Regions from separate parts of the Homo sapiens genome. Here region 2 is linked to region 1. Evidence: fine-mapped expression QTL. Tissue or cell type: whole blood. Region 1 holds a variant in brackets; the other region holds the start of a gene. All regions are shown on one strand. Distances are from middle to middle.

Evidence for each region. PIP is the estimated chance that this variant, and not a neighbour inherited with it, causes the effect.
Region 2: PKD2 starts here. The variant in region 1 is fine-mapped to the expression of PKD2 in whole blood (INTERVAL, PIP 0.98).

The regions. Positions count from the first base shown.
Region 1 is chr4:87,860,867-87,868,981 of GRCh38, reverse strand. No RefSeq gene overlaps it. Among named protein-coding and RNA genes, the nearest start is that of MEPE, 32 kb to the right of the region's middle. RefSeq lists an enhancer at 2,337-3,149. The variant C/T (reference allele first, on the strand shown) is at 3,817.
Region 2 is chr4:88,002,628-88,010,725 of GRCh38, reverse strand. PKD2 (polycystin 2, transient receptor potential cation channel) reads right to left here and starts at 3,091. Exons shown (of 15, transcript NM_000297.4): 1 at 2,398-3,091. The coding sequence starts at 2,992. RefSeq lists silencers at 2,209-2,348, 2,399-3,328.

The DNA of each region.
Region 1 (8,115 bases):
TACTATGTGCATATGCATGGGAGCCTCATAAAATATGACTCAAAGAAGAATAAGATGACTGAAGTTTTTATATCATACAGAGAGGAATAGGGGCTGGGGCTCCTGGAGGGTGAGGGTGACAAGCTATGAGAGAGTGAGGGGAAGAAATGCACTAAAACCAAAGGTTTGTCTTATTATGTAGATGAAGTCTCTCAGGTAGCAGCCCTCTGAAGGATAGATTGTAGCCTGTGGTAAAAGTCTCTCTGAGCAACGTGTTAGACCTTTAGTCTCTTTTCCTGTGAGCTAACCTCCCCTGGCTGATGATTGTGTTCCTTGTAAAGGAACTTCTCATAGTCAGATAAGGGAAGATAAGAGAAAGCCCTCCCAGCATTTGCTACTCCCAGGTGCTGTTAGTTTGAAGTCCAAAACAGTGTATTTTAGGATATTGTTTTCTGAGCCTCCCAAAATGAAATAAGAACATTAAATTAAAGAACATAGTTAAGAACAATATACAAGGTATTTACTAGATGCTATATAGTGAATACAAAGATATTAAAGATGCTCTTTGTCCTCTGAGTTTCCAGTCTCCAAGAATAGTTAATGTTAGTGGGCAGAGATATTGGGTACGAGTGGTGGGCTAGGGATTATGAAGAGGCAGAGTAGGGGTGCTTGAATAACCTCTTCTTATGATTTTTGGGGCATTAGGGAATGCCTTTATTCTGGGTCATCTTCCTGCCTGCTTTATATGATGCCTGAACTACTAGTAAGACTTAATTCTCATAGGGGAGTATTTTTCTTTTTTCTTTTTTAAGGAGATGTTCTTTAAAATGCAAATAATTCCCAGAGGAGAAATACATCAGTTTTGTAGGATTAGTTCTTCACATATAAGAATTATGCCAGATTAGCTGTTTTTATTTCACAAATGGGGGTGAGATACTGAATGTTTAGGAGTTTACTGGGTGCAGGAGTAAGAATGAGTTTTAAATAAAGTGTTGAGGGGTACTAATTATCCAGAGGTAACAAGAGGAGAAGACAGAAGGTAAGAAGGAGAGCTATATTATGCCATTTTGCTTAAGACTAACACTGGCTACAGTGGTACACCCAAATGCCCAAATATATATATAGAAACGGAATAGAACTAGAATTCTCATGAAAAATACTTGCAGTTTGCTGGCGTTGCTCACCTGTCAGTTCCTGCTCCTCTCTTCTTATCCTGCCTGTGTTGGAGACCATGCATTCTCAGCTGGGGTGATACTGCTCCCAAGAAGGAGGACTGGTTCTTGAGGGGTGAAAAAATTATACTATTTTTATGTCTAAAACACAGATATACATATAGCACATAAGCAAATATATGGTATATCCGTGGGAGGGAGTTACAAAGTCTTCTTAGGAAAGGCAATAATGAAAAGAAGGTTGGGAAACATTGATGTAGACCAGGTTAATTGGGAAGGCAAAAATCTGAGAAGAAGATACAGTTGGGGAAAAGTCACAAATAAAAGGCCAGATTTACTATGTATGGAAAAAAAATTAGGAGAGACAGAAAGGGGATAGTAAATCAGTAGACTTCAGGGAAAACATTTATGGTTGGTGACAAGATAGATCTCAGGGAGTCATGGGGAGAGAAATTGAGTGCAAGAGGAAGGGGAAAGGAAATTTCAAAACATATATTGCTGTGGATTGTTTATAGAATTCCCATTGACACTGGTCAAAGGAGGCAAGTAAGGATTAGAACTACACATGACTAGTTTTGACTTCTAAACTTCAGTGGTGGCATCAAAAAAGTCAATTCTTTGAGAATAATAATCAGTGTTTTCTCAGTCTTATGTAAAATGCAACAACAAAAAAATGCAGCTATTATAGGCTCTTTAGTAGCCCTCCAATAATATAAGTCCCTAAGCCCATATTATTTAGAAGCCACTACAGATGATTGTGTTCCTTTGAAAGCAGCATCTAGACACTGGGCTTCATGAACCCTGGACTTTATTTGGGTTATGGAGTTTATTAATTGCTCTAGAAGACATCTAAGCTGACTGGTCTATAGGGAGTGTTTCAGTTCTTAAGAGCTGCCTCAAAAGAATATTAACATTGTCCTTTGTGCATCTTTGAACACCCACCTACATGAATGCCACCAGTCTAGAAAAGTCCAAAGACTTGTGTCAGAATATCTACAAAGGAACCAGGCATCCTACATATTTCATTGGCCTTCCAAAGGAGCTATATCTTCTAATGATGGAGAGTAGAGAAATGATTTTTCAGATATCATGCTGCAAATTAATATCATTCTTGGGAAATAGATGAGGTCTACCTTGTTCCATTCACCGGCTTGAAATAGCAGGAATATAAATCAGAGAAAATGGCTGAGGTGAGTCTCAATCATTTTAGAGGTTTACTTTGCCAAGGTTGAGGACAAGAAAAGGAACACAAAATCACAGGATCATCTGTGATCCATGCTTTTTCCAAGGAGGTTTGGGACTTCAATATTTAAAGGGGAAAGAATGGGCAGTAGGGAAAAGAGAAAGGAAAAAGGCAGCCGGGGGGGAGGGTGTCAGGGGGAATAGATAAAAGGGGCAAGCTGTTGCATTCTTTTGAGGCTTTGATCATCAGTCACTGAATCCACATGTTACATGTGAAAGGAGGGGTTAGAGAAATAGTCAATTGTGCATTGCTCAGTGACTCTGCATTTTTACATGAGGTAAAGTAAACACAGAGGAAGAAATCAAATACTATTTGTCTCAGGCAAGGGGAGGGATCACTTGCAGTCCTGTTCTTTGACCCTTACCTGTGAAGATAACCTGTTAGTTTCACATTGTCAGGGTGAAATTCAACAGAACTGTTTTAGGGTAAAGATCTTGAGGCCCACAGGAAATTCCTTCATGAGGAAATTGTGTGGGAGGCCTCCTGGGGAAGTAGGTGGCCTTCTATCTTTGTTGCTATTTAGGGATAAAATGGGAGGCAGTTCTGTGTGGTTCAGTTCCCAAGGTTGACTTTTCCTTTTGGCATAGTGAGTTTGGGGTCCTCAGATTTTTATTTTTCTTCCACAGGATTCTCCCTGAAATGAACAACAATATGGTCCATTTCCCACTGTCAAGGATGTCCTCAAAAATCACTCATTGTATTGTGCATAAAGTCTTTTGGCTGCCAGAGAAAGTTTATTACACTGTACCAACGACAGTGAGGTTGTTTGTTAAATGGATTACAATACAAATAACTAAGTTATACTTTTCAAAAATAATGCAGACCGCATAGGTCAGAAAGGCATAGAGCTTTTGCATTAAATTAGGAGCACAAGTATTCCCATTCATTTAATAAGCAATCCCTTACCAATGATAAATGCCCAAATCACCAGAATCAATTATGTAAGTTAAAGGAACAAAACATGATTAGAACTTTCAAATGCAATTGAGTGCTTCCCTGCTACCCTTAAGTTGGCATCTGAGTGCTGGGAAGGTTTGAGGGAGAGAAGAGAGAAAAAGGAACAACATCACGGTCAAGGGCAGACAGGCACTTCCCAGAGGTAGTTTGGAAATAGTCCAAATTTTGTGGTTAAAAATAAACAAGGCTTTCTGTAAATTTCTTTTTCCCCATTGTAAGTTGTCTGACGTGATCATGACCTTGTTGGCAAATTCTGTTTTCATTGTGACTGGAAAACCTTTTACCTCAAGCTCACTTTGGGGAAAATTTAGTCCTTACGGTTCTAATTTCTTCCTTTACCAGTTTGCTGTCTTTTTTCTCCCCTGTCTGAGGAACTTCTTGGAAAGTTCAACTCATTTGTCTAAGGGTTTCTTCCTCAGGGTCATTCTGAAATTTCATTGTATTATATCAATTTCATTTGATATA[C/T]TTAGGTTTAATCAATAGAGAATGATATTTACTGGGAGGGAAACAGCAATGACTAAAGCAAAATATAGTTGGTACAACCTGAATTCAGATGGTATCAACATGACTGGAGTAGTGATGGAAGGATTTTATGGAAGTAAAAAGAATACTTCATATCTTAAAACTTGATTTCATAGTATCCCCACTTTCTCCTAATACTGTTGAGTAGTTAATATCAATTAAAATAAAGTTTGTTTTATTTTGAAGCTCTTTCGAGAACTTCCAAAAGTATCTCAAAGTGATTTAAGAAAATCTGTGATGTGCTGTAACTAGAAATTAATGATTAGAAATACAGTAACTTCACTCAAAACCTCTCATTATTAGCATATACACTGGAGGTAGGTAGGAAAGTGTGTCAATGTCAAAAGTTACATTTAAAATTGACCACAATTTTTTTGGGGGGGTGGGAGGAAGAGGTAAAATTTACAGATAGTCTCTACACATTGTTTTCTCATATTACGATGTATAGTTAAGCTTTATTCAGCACATAATTGAGACAGCCAGGTGGGAAAGTGTCCCCAAAGAATCTCCAACCAGCCTGCCCACTGGGAGGAGTGTGCACTGGGGTGGAACCACAGAAGTCTGTGCCATTTGCAGTGGGGAGGAGCCTGGCCCCTCCTCTTCCTGGGTGGAATTTGGGATTCAATCTGTGAGGTGGGAAGCTTATACTAGGAGGACTCTCACTCTGTTTTTTTTCTCCTTTTTGCCCAGTAAATCCCATTATTCTCACCCTTCAAATTGTCTGCAAGCCTACTTCTGTGGCCAAATGACAAGGACCCTGCCTTTAGCTGAATTAAGGACAAGTCCCGCAATGTGATTATAATAGTCCCAGACCTACTGAGATACAAAAGAACTAAGTGGTTTCCTGCCAGGGAGAAAATTACCACGGAAAAGGTAATGAGAGGTGATAGCCTCCTGGCAGCCCTCGCTCGCTCTGGGCACCTCCTTGGCCTAGGCGCCCACTCTCGCTGCGCTTGAGGGGCCCTTCAGGCCACTTCTTGCGGGGCTTCCCCACCATGGGAGCCCCTCTCTGGGCTGGCCAAGGCCGGAGCCGGCTCCCTCAGCTTGCGGGAGGTGTGGAGGGAGAGGCGCGGGTGGGAACCGGGCTGCGCCTGGTGCTTGCAGGCCAGCGCGAGTTCTGGGTGGGCGTGGGCTCGGCGGCCCCACACTCGGAGCAGCCGGCCAGTGCTGCCGGCCGGGTGAGTGAGGGGCTTAGCACCCAGGCCAGCAGCTGCAGAGGGTACGCCGGGTCCCCCAGCAGTGCCGGCCCCCCGGCGCTGCGCTGGAATTCTTGCCGGGCCTCAGCTGCCTCCCGGCGGGGCAGGGCTCCGGACCTGCAGCCCGCCATGCCTGAGCCTCCCTCCCGCCCCCCACCGCCGTGGGCTCCTGCGCGGCCCCACGAGCGCTACCCCCTGCTCTGCAGCGCCCGGTCCCATCCACAGCTCAAGGGCTGAGGATTGTGGGCGCATGGTGCGGGACTGGCGGGCAGCTCCACCTGCTGTCCGGTGTGGAATCCACTAGGTGAAGCCAGCTGGGCTCCTGAGTCTAGTGGGGACTTGGAGAACCTTTATGTCTAGCTAAGGGATTGTAAATACACCAATCAGCACTGTGTCTAGGTCAAGGTTTGTAAACACACCAATCAGCACCCTGTGTCTAGCTCAAGGTTTGTTAATGCACCAATCAGTGCTCTGTGTCTAGCTAATCCAGTGGGGACTTGGAGAACCTTTATGTCTAGCTAAGGGATTGTAAATACACCAATCAGCACTCTGTGTCTAGCTCAAGGTTTGTAAATGCACCAATCAGCACCCTGTGTCTAGCTCAAGGTTTGTAAATGCACCTATCAGTGCTCTGTGTCTAGCTAATCAAGTGGGGACTTGAAGAACTTTTGTGTCTAGCTCAGGGATTGTAAATGCAACAATCAGCACCCTGTCAAAATGGACCAATCAGCTCTCTGCAAAACAGATGAATCAGCTCTCTGTAAAATGGACTAATCAGCAGGATGTGGGTGGGACCAGATAAGGGAATAAAAGCAGGCTGCCCCAGCCAGCAGTGGCAACCCGCTTCGGGTCCCCTTCCACACGGTGGAAGCTTTGTTCTTTTGCTCTTTGCAATAAATCTTGCTGCTGCTCAGTCTTTGGGTCTGCACTGTCTTTATGAGGTGTAACACTCATTGCAAAGGTGTGCAGCTTCACTCCTGCGCCAGCGAGACCACGAACCCACAAGAAGGAAGAAACTCCGAATACATCCGAACATCAGAAGGAACAAACTCCGGACACGCGGACTTTACGAACTGTAACACTCACCGCGAGGGTCCGCGGCTTCATTCTTGAAGTCAGTGAGACCAAGAACCCACCAATTCCGGACACAGTAAGACAGCACTCCTGTGGAACTGCTTCATGGAATTTAAGAAACTTGGTTTCAGAGCTGGTAGACTCCTTTAAATCACCAATGTGTTTTAGCAGAAACCTACAACACACTGAGAATATCAATGAACCTCAAGATGTTTAATAGCCAGTATTTTTGTGACTGTCCCTTGAATTAGACATGCTAGCCACAGGGAGCAAAGGAAGTGAGGTGGGGCAGAGAGTGGGTGGGGATGAGGCTAGTTTTGCCCCACTGTGTTTCCATGAAGTTTTGTATAAAGTGGACTTTATGGTGTTTGCTGAAACCCATCTGCAGGGGAAAGGTTTGTTTGAACTTGAGGTAAAATAAGCTACCAGCTACTGTACTTCCTGGCCTGCCTCAGTGAGCCAGCCAGGAAGGGGTTATCCCCAGGCACTTCTCTCCCTCTGACCCCACTGCAGAGGTACTGCTTGTGCTGCCCTAATGAATACACTCTTCCTCGCCTCCTGAATTTGCTCTTTTACCTAAACGGAAACAAATACTGAAAATATAAGACGTGTTATTGCAAAAAGAAGGAGTAAAGTCAGAGTCTGTGACTTTCCCACACATCAGTGGAAGCTGGTGTTTTTTGAATAGAAGTCATCTCTGTATGGCTGGCTGTCAGACAGAACCTCCCACACAGAAGGGACCCACACTGGGTTTCTTTCTCCTGTCTTACCATCCTGGGATTCTTACTGATTATCTTTAAACTTACAGTTTATAACTGAAGTCTGATGGGACACTGGAGCATGGGCTTGAGCAGATGAAATATGTGGAAGCAAGGAAGGAGCTTTGTAGTTTAGTACTTAATAGCACTTCCCCCTGCTTTTTGAACAAGAGATGCTGCATTTTCATTGGTACTGGGCTTCACGAATTGTGTAACTAGTCCGGTCTCTCTGTGGATCTCTACTGTTTTTTATTCTACTAATAACAGCATACTTGTATTAGTCAGGGTTCTCCAGAGACACGGAACGAATAGAATATATACAGATATACAAGAAGAGACTTGTTATGGGAATTGGCTCATGTGATGATGGAGGTCAAGAAGCCCCACTATACACTGAAGCCAACTGGAGAACCAGGAAAACTGGTGGTGTAATTCAGTCCAAGACTTAAGGCTTGGGAACCTGGGGGGCTACTGGTGTAAGTTCTGGAGTCCAAAGGTCCAAAAACCAGGACCACCCACGTCCCAAGGCAGGGGAAGATGGATGGCCCAGATCAAGCAGATAGAGAAAATTCACGCTTCCGCCACCTCTTTGTTCTCTTGAGGCCCTCAATGCATTGGATGGTGCCCACCTGCATTGATGAGGGTGATATTCTGTACTAAGTCTACTGATGGATTCAACGCTGATCTCTTTCAGAAACACCCTCAAAGACATACTTAAAATAATGTTTACAGGCTATCTGGGCATCCCTTAGCCCTGTTAAGTCAACACATATAATTAACTATCACAACATCTTTTTATTATTTTTGCCTATGAAGTGGTCATGTTAATCTGTTAAGCTTGTATTATGTTTTTCTGTAAATATTCTTGGGACTACTCTGTAGGCATCAGTTTATGAGACTCATGAAATAGTGTTAACTATTAGTACTAATGGCACTGGAAATTCTAAAATCAAGACCACGTAAGAGAACAAAGATGTGACAGTGAAATACACTTGCTGTGGATTCTGAAGGCATTTCTAAAAGATGTTCAGAAATGTAGCGTATAACTTCCCAAGATGACAATTTCAAAGAGATTTCATTTGGATACCTAAGTATTGGTAATTAAAAAACCAGGTCAGGTGCAGTGGCTCACGCCTGTAATCCCAGCACTTTGGGAGGCAGAGGTGGGCAGATCACGTGAGGTCAGGAGTTCGAAACCAGCTTGGCCAACATGG
Region 2 (8,098 bases), 140 kb before region 1:
CTAGGTTCAATTCTTCCATTTTATAAATGAGGAGCTCAGGCTCAGGTAGTTTGAGGGAGCTATACAAAGTCACAAAGGCAAGAGACTTCCAGGGAAACTCCTGACCACTCCAAACTTCAGTCATTTCTCCCACCTTTAAAAATTGCAAGTTACTTTCTGTTCTGATCCTAGGGCACTGCTTACATAGTGCATATAAGATTTCTGTCATCAGTATCCAAAGGGGGCAGGGGGAATCTCAACCCATTCATGGCTATTTATTTTACATTTCTGGGTTTTTGTCCATAGGAAAACAGTGATATGCTATTCTAGTTTATTCATAGCAGCTAGCACAGTGCTATCTTCACAGTAGGTGCTAAACATTTTAAAATGTTGCTTATTTAATAAGTGACAAGAATATCAATTATATTTCTTCATAAAAGAAAGGAATAACAATTTATTTAAACATTTTATATAATTAAAACTTTTCAGCTAGGAGCAGCAGCTTGCACCTGTAATCCCAACTACTTGGGAAGCTGAGGTGGGAGGGCAGCTTGAGCCCAGGAGTTTGAGGCCGCAGTGAGCTACGTTTGCTTCCCCGCACTCCAGCCTCAGTGACAGAGTGAAACCCCGACTCTTAAAAAAAAAAAAAAAATTCCCGATTCCTGAGTCTGCTCTCCTACAAATCAGACCATTGACACACTTTGGCTAGAGGTTTTATGACTATGAGCTTATTCATTTTGTTTCCTGAAATTTTCCTTTAAAAGAAATAAATTTACATACATACTCATATGAAATATATATTTTATTTCTCTATATTCTGTTATTGAGTTTATTCAAACAAGGTTAGGGGTGTTATCAAATGCTTAAACTGAGTTAAAAGGATCATGCAACTTACCATTATTTATTAACTTAAAAGGAACTTCTCTCTCACTTCAGTGAATATTTTTTAAATGCACATTTTAAATGGTGTAAAATAACATAATTAATCCAGTTTTGAATCTTAAAAAGTGTTAGTGTTTTATTAATTTACTCACACAGGTTATCCGAAAAGGATCTTCTGTTCCCCATCATGCTTTTAATAAAATTAACTAGTATAAGAATCTCCATAAACGAAGTACCAAAATGTTTACATTTATATTTCTGAAGCGCTAATAACATGACAAATACATGCTGCACATTTTATGTCTTAACTCACTTAATTCTCCCAAAGAGTCAAGTCCTAAGCGTTATGATCATCTCTTTAAAAAAAAAAAAAATCCAAAAATTGGGTATCAGAGAGGATAAGTAACTTGCTCAAGGTCGTACAGCTAATGAGTGGTGGAACTGGGATTTCAGTGTAGGCCTGACCTGGTTTTAATCACACTGCTGTAACAACACCTGGATTGTTTTTGTGCAAGACTTTCAAAACTGACAGAAGGAGAAGAACAAGAAAAACTCAACTGAGAATGGAAACTCTTAAAAATATAGATTAAAATAATTTGGAGGGTAAAAGCAAATGAAATACTTTCCCAAGGATACCTCTGACAAAATTTGTAAAAAGAGAATTTCCTCTGGTACTAGAAAATTCATGTCCTCTTACTGGGCACTGGCAAATTTGAAAATTCCTCTTCTGCCTTTTGTAGAGCTGGGCGCACTGGGCTCAGACACATTTATCAGCTGCTATCTGGTGACTTCATCATTTTGGTGGAATTTCAAAGAACATTAATTTAGTTATTTAAAAACATACTTCAAATTTTTTTAAAACAATGTAATCTTTCCTTTGCAACTGTTTTTAGAAAAATGTCTAGAATTAGAAACGGCCAAATAACTTCACGATATTATTTTATTCTATTTGTGGTGTTCTTAACAGCTCCCACTCCTCAAAACAACCACACACATCACCAAAAAAATGCACCAATGACAATCTGCCACACTCCTCCCACAACTTGACATTATATGCACTGTACTGCTACCCTTTTCAGCCCGGGACAATGGAGTGTCCAGGCAAGAAGGAAACCACGGGTGACTATAACATTTTCCTTTAGATTTTGTGACATTGGCAAATATGCAGTTGCAACTACCATCAGTTACACAAGTAATGTTCATTTTTTCCTCTACAAGAAAAAAAAAAACAAAACCCAGATGTACTCTTTCACTCTAATTAGGCTTTCACTAATTTTCAGTAAAAAAGACTATGGTGACATATCCTGAAGAAGGAGGTATCCAATAAATATGCACCAACAAAAGAGCAGTGGAATTCCGCGCTGGGTACCGGAAATAGGGCAGCACTAGCGGAGGTGGGGAATGCGCTTCCAAGGGAGGCGGAACGCAGAGGGGATGCGAGATGGAGCCCGGGGAGCTGCCGCAGCGGGCGATGGCCCCGGCCGGCGCCGGCCGTTCTGGTTCGTGCATCTGCCGCTGCGGGTCGCGCGCTCTTACCTCGCAGCCCGCGAACCAGCCTCTCCGCCCAGGCCACTCGGGGCGGCTGCCCTTCCAGGGGGAGGTGGCGATGCAGCGGGTCCCCGCCGCCGACTGGGCTGGGGCACGGCGGGCCCTGGTCCTCTCGCCGGCGCCGCCTCCCGCTCGGGTGGCCCGCGCCGTGGTAGCCCCCAAGCCCCCGGCTCCGCGCGCCCACGGAGCTCACGGCCGAGGAGGCGGCCGACCTCCGGCTGCCCGGGCGCCACTCTACGTCCATCTCCACCACCATTCCGCCTTCTTCCCCTTCCACCTCCTCCTCCTCCTCCTCGGCCTCGAAGCCGGGGTTATCGCGGCTCCACGCCTGCCGGGAGCACGACGAGAGCGGAGGAGAAGGGGAGGCCGCGGCTCCGGCCGGGGGGTCCCGCGCGGCCGCCTGCCGGATGCGCTGCATCTCGATCTCCAGGCCCCGCTGCTCGCAGAGGCCGCCCGGGGCGGCGAGGCTGGCGCCCACGGCCGCGCAGCCAGCCATCAGCCGGCCCGGGTCCGGCGCGCGGGGCGCGGGCGGCCGCTTGGCGTCCCCGGGCTGCTGAGGCTGCACGCGACTGGAGTTCACCATCGCGGTCACTGGCGTCCGGCGCGCGGGTGCGCGGCGCCGCGCTCGGCGCTGTGCGCCTCAGGAGCCATGTTCCTTTCTTCCCGGCGCCCGCCGCCGCCTGCTCCCCGCCCCCGACCTCCCCGCGGTCCCGCGTCCTCTCGCCCGCCCCTTTGGCCCGCCTCCCTCTGGCCTCGCCCCGCCTCGCCCATCCGCCGCGGCGCGCTGAGCGGGGAGGTGCGAGGGAGCCGCCCCCGCGGTCTGCGCGCTCGCCCGGCGGCTCCCGAGTCCGCGTTCCAAGTGGAACCGGAGCCCGGGCGCGGGCGCCCACGTTCCATTCCCGGGAAGGCCTGGGAAGGGAGGGAATCGCTCACCCGCCAGCCCGCCTGCAGGGAAAGGGCTCCTGGAGCTGTCGATGCCTGCCCGACGCTGAGATAACTCTTGGGTCCCAGTTATCCACCAGCCACTTCTGCCTCGATTCACCAAAGGGCAGGGAAAGAACCTTTTGGTGAGATGGTGTGAATTAGCGACATCCAGCCTGAGCTGAAGTCTCCAGCGGGTCAAAGAAATCTTTCCATTTGCAAACTACCAAGGCTGACTTGCTGTGCATTTGGCGGGCCTCCTGCCCCTGATTCTGCTGGTTTGGAGATGCTTTCTCGCTCTTTGGTTGGCTTCTGTCTCCACACATTGTGGGGATCCCAGGGATTCGTCATAGGACTCTCGGATCGCTGGTGCCTCCACTGTGATCTCCGGTCTCCCTGCGGCCAGCACTGACTTCTAGCAACAGAATCCTGCATGAGGGCCTAGGCACAGAACTTTATTTCCACTCTTCTGAACACATCTAATGTGATGCTCTGCAATTGTCTGAAATTTATCCTACCCTAAGTCATTATCTTGTCCCCTTCTCTGGAACCTGCTTCACTTCCCGTATCCCAAGGTGAGGTTTGGGGCTTCGCTGTCCTCCTCACTTCCCAGGCCACTCTTCTTCATGGAAGCCTCGCGGTTTACCCTCCACCGCCTACACCTTATCTTCTTGTTACTTTTGCCCCACAGATATCACCCTGATATGATCTCTGTTTCTCACTCCTGCTGGCTTGATCTTATGTCTTGCATTATTCCGCATTAGAACAATTGATCCCTGTCAACTCCCATCTCTATTCTCCACGTCGGTGTCCTCACTATTTCCAGGTTATATTGCAGAACCAAAGCTGCTTATTTGTCACGTTGATGCTTAGACACCTCTGTGGGCTTCTGGCAGCTGAAAGGATAAAATTTAATTTCTGTGGTTTGGTTTAGTAAATTCTCATAATCTGCTCCTGTATTTGTTTGTTAGGGCTGCCATAACAAAGTACCAGAGACTGGGTGGCTTAACAGAAATTTATTTGCTCACCTTGTCTCTACAAAAAATACAAAAATTAGCCAGGCTTTGCGGTGTGTGCCTTTGGTCCCAGCTATTAGGGACGCTGAGGTGGGAGGATCGCTTGAGCCCGGGAGGCAGAGGATGTAGTGAGCCAAGATCGGGCCACTGCACTCCAAGTGACAGAGTGAGACTCTGTCTCATAAAGAAAGAAAGAGAGAGAGAGAAGAAAGAAAAAAAGAAGGAAGGAAGGAAAAAGAAAAGAAAAATTGTATTTTCTCACGAGGTGTTGGCAGAGTTGGTTTCTTCTGAGGCCTCTCTCCTTGGCTTGCAGATGGCCCCGCTTTTGTGTCCTCACGCCGTCTTCCCTCTTCCCTCTGTATGCGTCTGTGTCCTAATTGTCTATTCTTATACATCATATTGGATTAGGGCCTACCCTCATGACCTTGTTTTCACTTCATTACTTCTGTAAAGACCCTGTCTCCAAGTATGGTCATGTTCTGAGGTAATGGGGGTTAGGACTTCAACACAGAAATTTTTGGGGGGACACAATTTAGCTTTAACAGCTCTTAATGTACTCCTCTAGCATGGCATCCCATGCCATCCATCCACCTTAATGAATTATTCATTTGTTCTCTAGGCACATATAACATGCTGCTAATATTTAGGTAATTATGGCTACCTATTACCTGATCCTGCAGTTTATTAATTTAGATATTCATGTTCTTCTCTTAACTGTGAGCTTCTCAAAGGCAAGACTGGTGGGTCTGGAGCACAGCCCTAGCTCATGCTATTCATCAGTTCATTCTGAAGACATTTCCTGTGCCCTGAATTAAGGTCTGGGCATGTAGAGAGGAGTATGATACAGCCTTGGCCCTCAAGAGGAGACAGACCAAAAATGAGAGATTACCAAGTGGGTTAAGGGTTATGGTGCCTGTCATCCAAGGAACTTCTGAAGCTGAAGATGTCCTGAATAGCACCAGCAGCACTGCAGAGTCGAAGGATTCTTACAGACACATTCCAACAGAGGAGAGCCAGGCCTGGAAAGAGAATGCAGAATCTGAGCCAAAGGGTCCTCTGGAGAATAGGCCTAGTACAATGTTTTCAAATTGTGATCAGAAGATCTCCAGCATCACTTGCAGCTCTTGCTAAAAATATAGATACTGGGTCCACATTCCAACCTTATTGACTCAAAATCTTCCGGATTCCAGTCCTGAAATTCTGAATCTTCACAGGGGATTCTCAGGCATCCAAAGTTTGAGAAGCACCAATGTGTTCCAAATGGAAGAGGTTTCATAAATATTTCCCCCACATTTCTATACTTCACTGTTAGCACTAGTGAGACAATCATCTGGAATCCCAGACTTAGAAGAAAATTCAGTGGTCTTTGAGTCAGGTTACTCTATGCTTGTGCCTGCAGTCACTAATTCGTTGTAAGGACCCTGGAGCCAGACTGCCTGGATTCTGATTTACTCACTACTTCCTAGCTGTGTGACCTTGGGAAAGTCACTTTATCTCCTTGTACCACCAAAGATGAGGATAATGATAATGCCTACCTCATAGGGTTGTTGTGAGGATTAGGTGAATTAATACATGTGTTTTAGTCCATTCGGGCTGCTATAAAAAATATCATGTAGTGGGTGGCTTATAAACGATGAACCTTTATTTCTTACAGTTCTGGAAGCTGGACGGTCCAAGATCATGCTGCCAGCAGATTTGTGGTCTGGTGAGGGTCTACTTTCTGGTTCATAGACTGCACCTCCTAGCTGTGTCTTATGGTAGAAGGGGCAAAAGAGCTCCCTTGAGCTGCTTCTCTAAGGGCACTAATCCCATTTGTGAGGGCTCCAGCCCCATGATGTAATCACCTCTCAGAGGCCCCAGCTCCTTATACCATCACTTTGAAGGTTAGGATTTCAATGTATGAATTATGGGGGGGGAACACAAACACCCAGACCATAGCATGTGGAACACCGTCTGACATGTACGTGCTAATAGTGTTAGAAGTAGTCTTTGCTCTTATATCTTAATTATGATAACTGTTTTCATCTATGATAATTGCTTTTGTGGATGTCTTTGTTAGTGTTAGAAGTGGTCTTAGCTCTTATATCTTAATTATGATAACTATTTTCATCTATTATAATTGCTTTTGTGGATGTCTTTGTTCCAGCTAGGCTGTGAGTTTCTGGAGGGCTCCATGCCAATCCTAGAGGCTTCTATAACAAATACTTACTAAACACCTACTATATGCCAGGCACAATACTAGGAGAGACGGCAATTCATTAAATAGGGGAAAAGCCTAGCTCTCATAGAGGTGAGCTTATATTTTACAGGGTTTGAGGGGATTTAGAAGAGAGATTGCCCAGGCTGGCATGGGTAGGGAAGGTAGGTAGGGCCAGATCATAGGAAGCCTCAGATGTGTGTTAAGGAGTACAGACTCTCTATAGTTAATGATAACATAAATAGGCCTTTTTTTTTTCTTTCTAGAGTGTCAGTTCCTATTTAAAACAAAATCTGAAATCTTCCTGAAACTATATCCTCACCCTTAAAAGAATTCAAATTGATTGGAAATGTGTCTGCACATACATAATTCAGAGTTATATGTGTGCTTACCCAAAATTTTCTTTACAAATTATTGCAAGAAATGTAATCATTAAAAATTCGCAGCAATTTTTGTGTAATACCACTTAAATAGCATTTGGTCCATTGCACCCTAAATCTTACATTTTGGAGTTTCAATATTAATTTCAATCTTAATTTTCATAAACCCAACACCAGCCATCTAATATATTTCCTGTTCAAATACTTATTCATTCCTTCTGGCTTACTAAGGTTCCCTTTTGTGCTTTTATGTTAATTTGTTTCTCCCCTTTAGAGTGCCCAGCTTTTGCTCAAGCAGGCCCTGAGGCTGTAAATTTCTCTCCCTACCCACGGAATTCCTTCCTTTAATACCCATCTGAAGACCTTACTTCTAATAAGAAATTTTCCATTATTAAATAAGTGACGTGCACAAAGTTTTTTTCATCTCATTTCCACAATCCTGTTGTCACATTACAAATTTCCATCATCTGTAGCATCTGGAAATACCGAGTGGGATAGATAACATGGCCTGGCTGCTGTTTGTTTTTTTTTTCATCAGTGTGCTAGATCTTCCTGGACACGCTGCACAAATCTCACCTCAGTCTTAGTGCCACCGTGGACGCTGGAAGGAGCCATTTTAAAAGGCAACCTTAAACAGTTCAGTCTAATTTAATATTAGTGGCCTCCACACCTCTGACTCTTGTATTATTAGAATTGCCTGTTTGGCTTTTATTTTCCAGTGTGAACTGATGAAACAGACACAAAGTGAAGTACCCGTTGGTTTCGCGGTCTCCACCTCGAGAGGAAATCCAAAAGGAGTTTCTGGCATGTGTGGTGTTGCTTAGCAATTTACCCAAACAAACATGTTTCCTCCTCATTTTTTTCCCCAGTACTTATTTACTCAAGAACATTGTAAAATCAATTTTTACCACTTGACATCTGAAATCATTAGAAGAAAATCTGGTGTTTTGGGCTTTATGAGAAGAACTGCTAACCACAGTAAGACTTTGACTTTACTTTGTTTGTCATTTTGCTGCTTTAATAACATAAAGCTAGGATTTGTGGCCTTCTTCATGATAGATTTGGTTTGGATTGGCCTGCATACATCCCTGTCTCTGTGGGGTTATCTTGGCACCATAATTGGCTGGCACCGTGATCTTGATGACCTAATCTCTCTATCTCAATTTCCTTCTCTG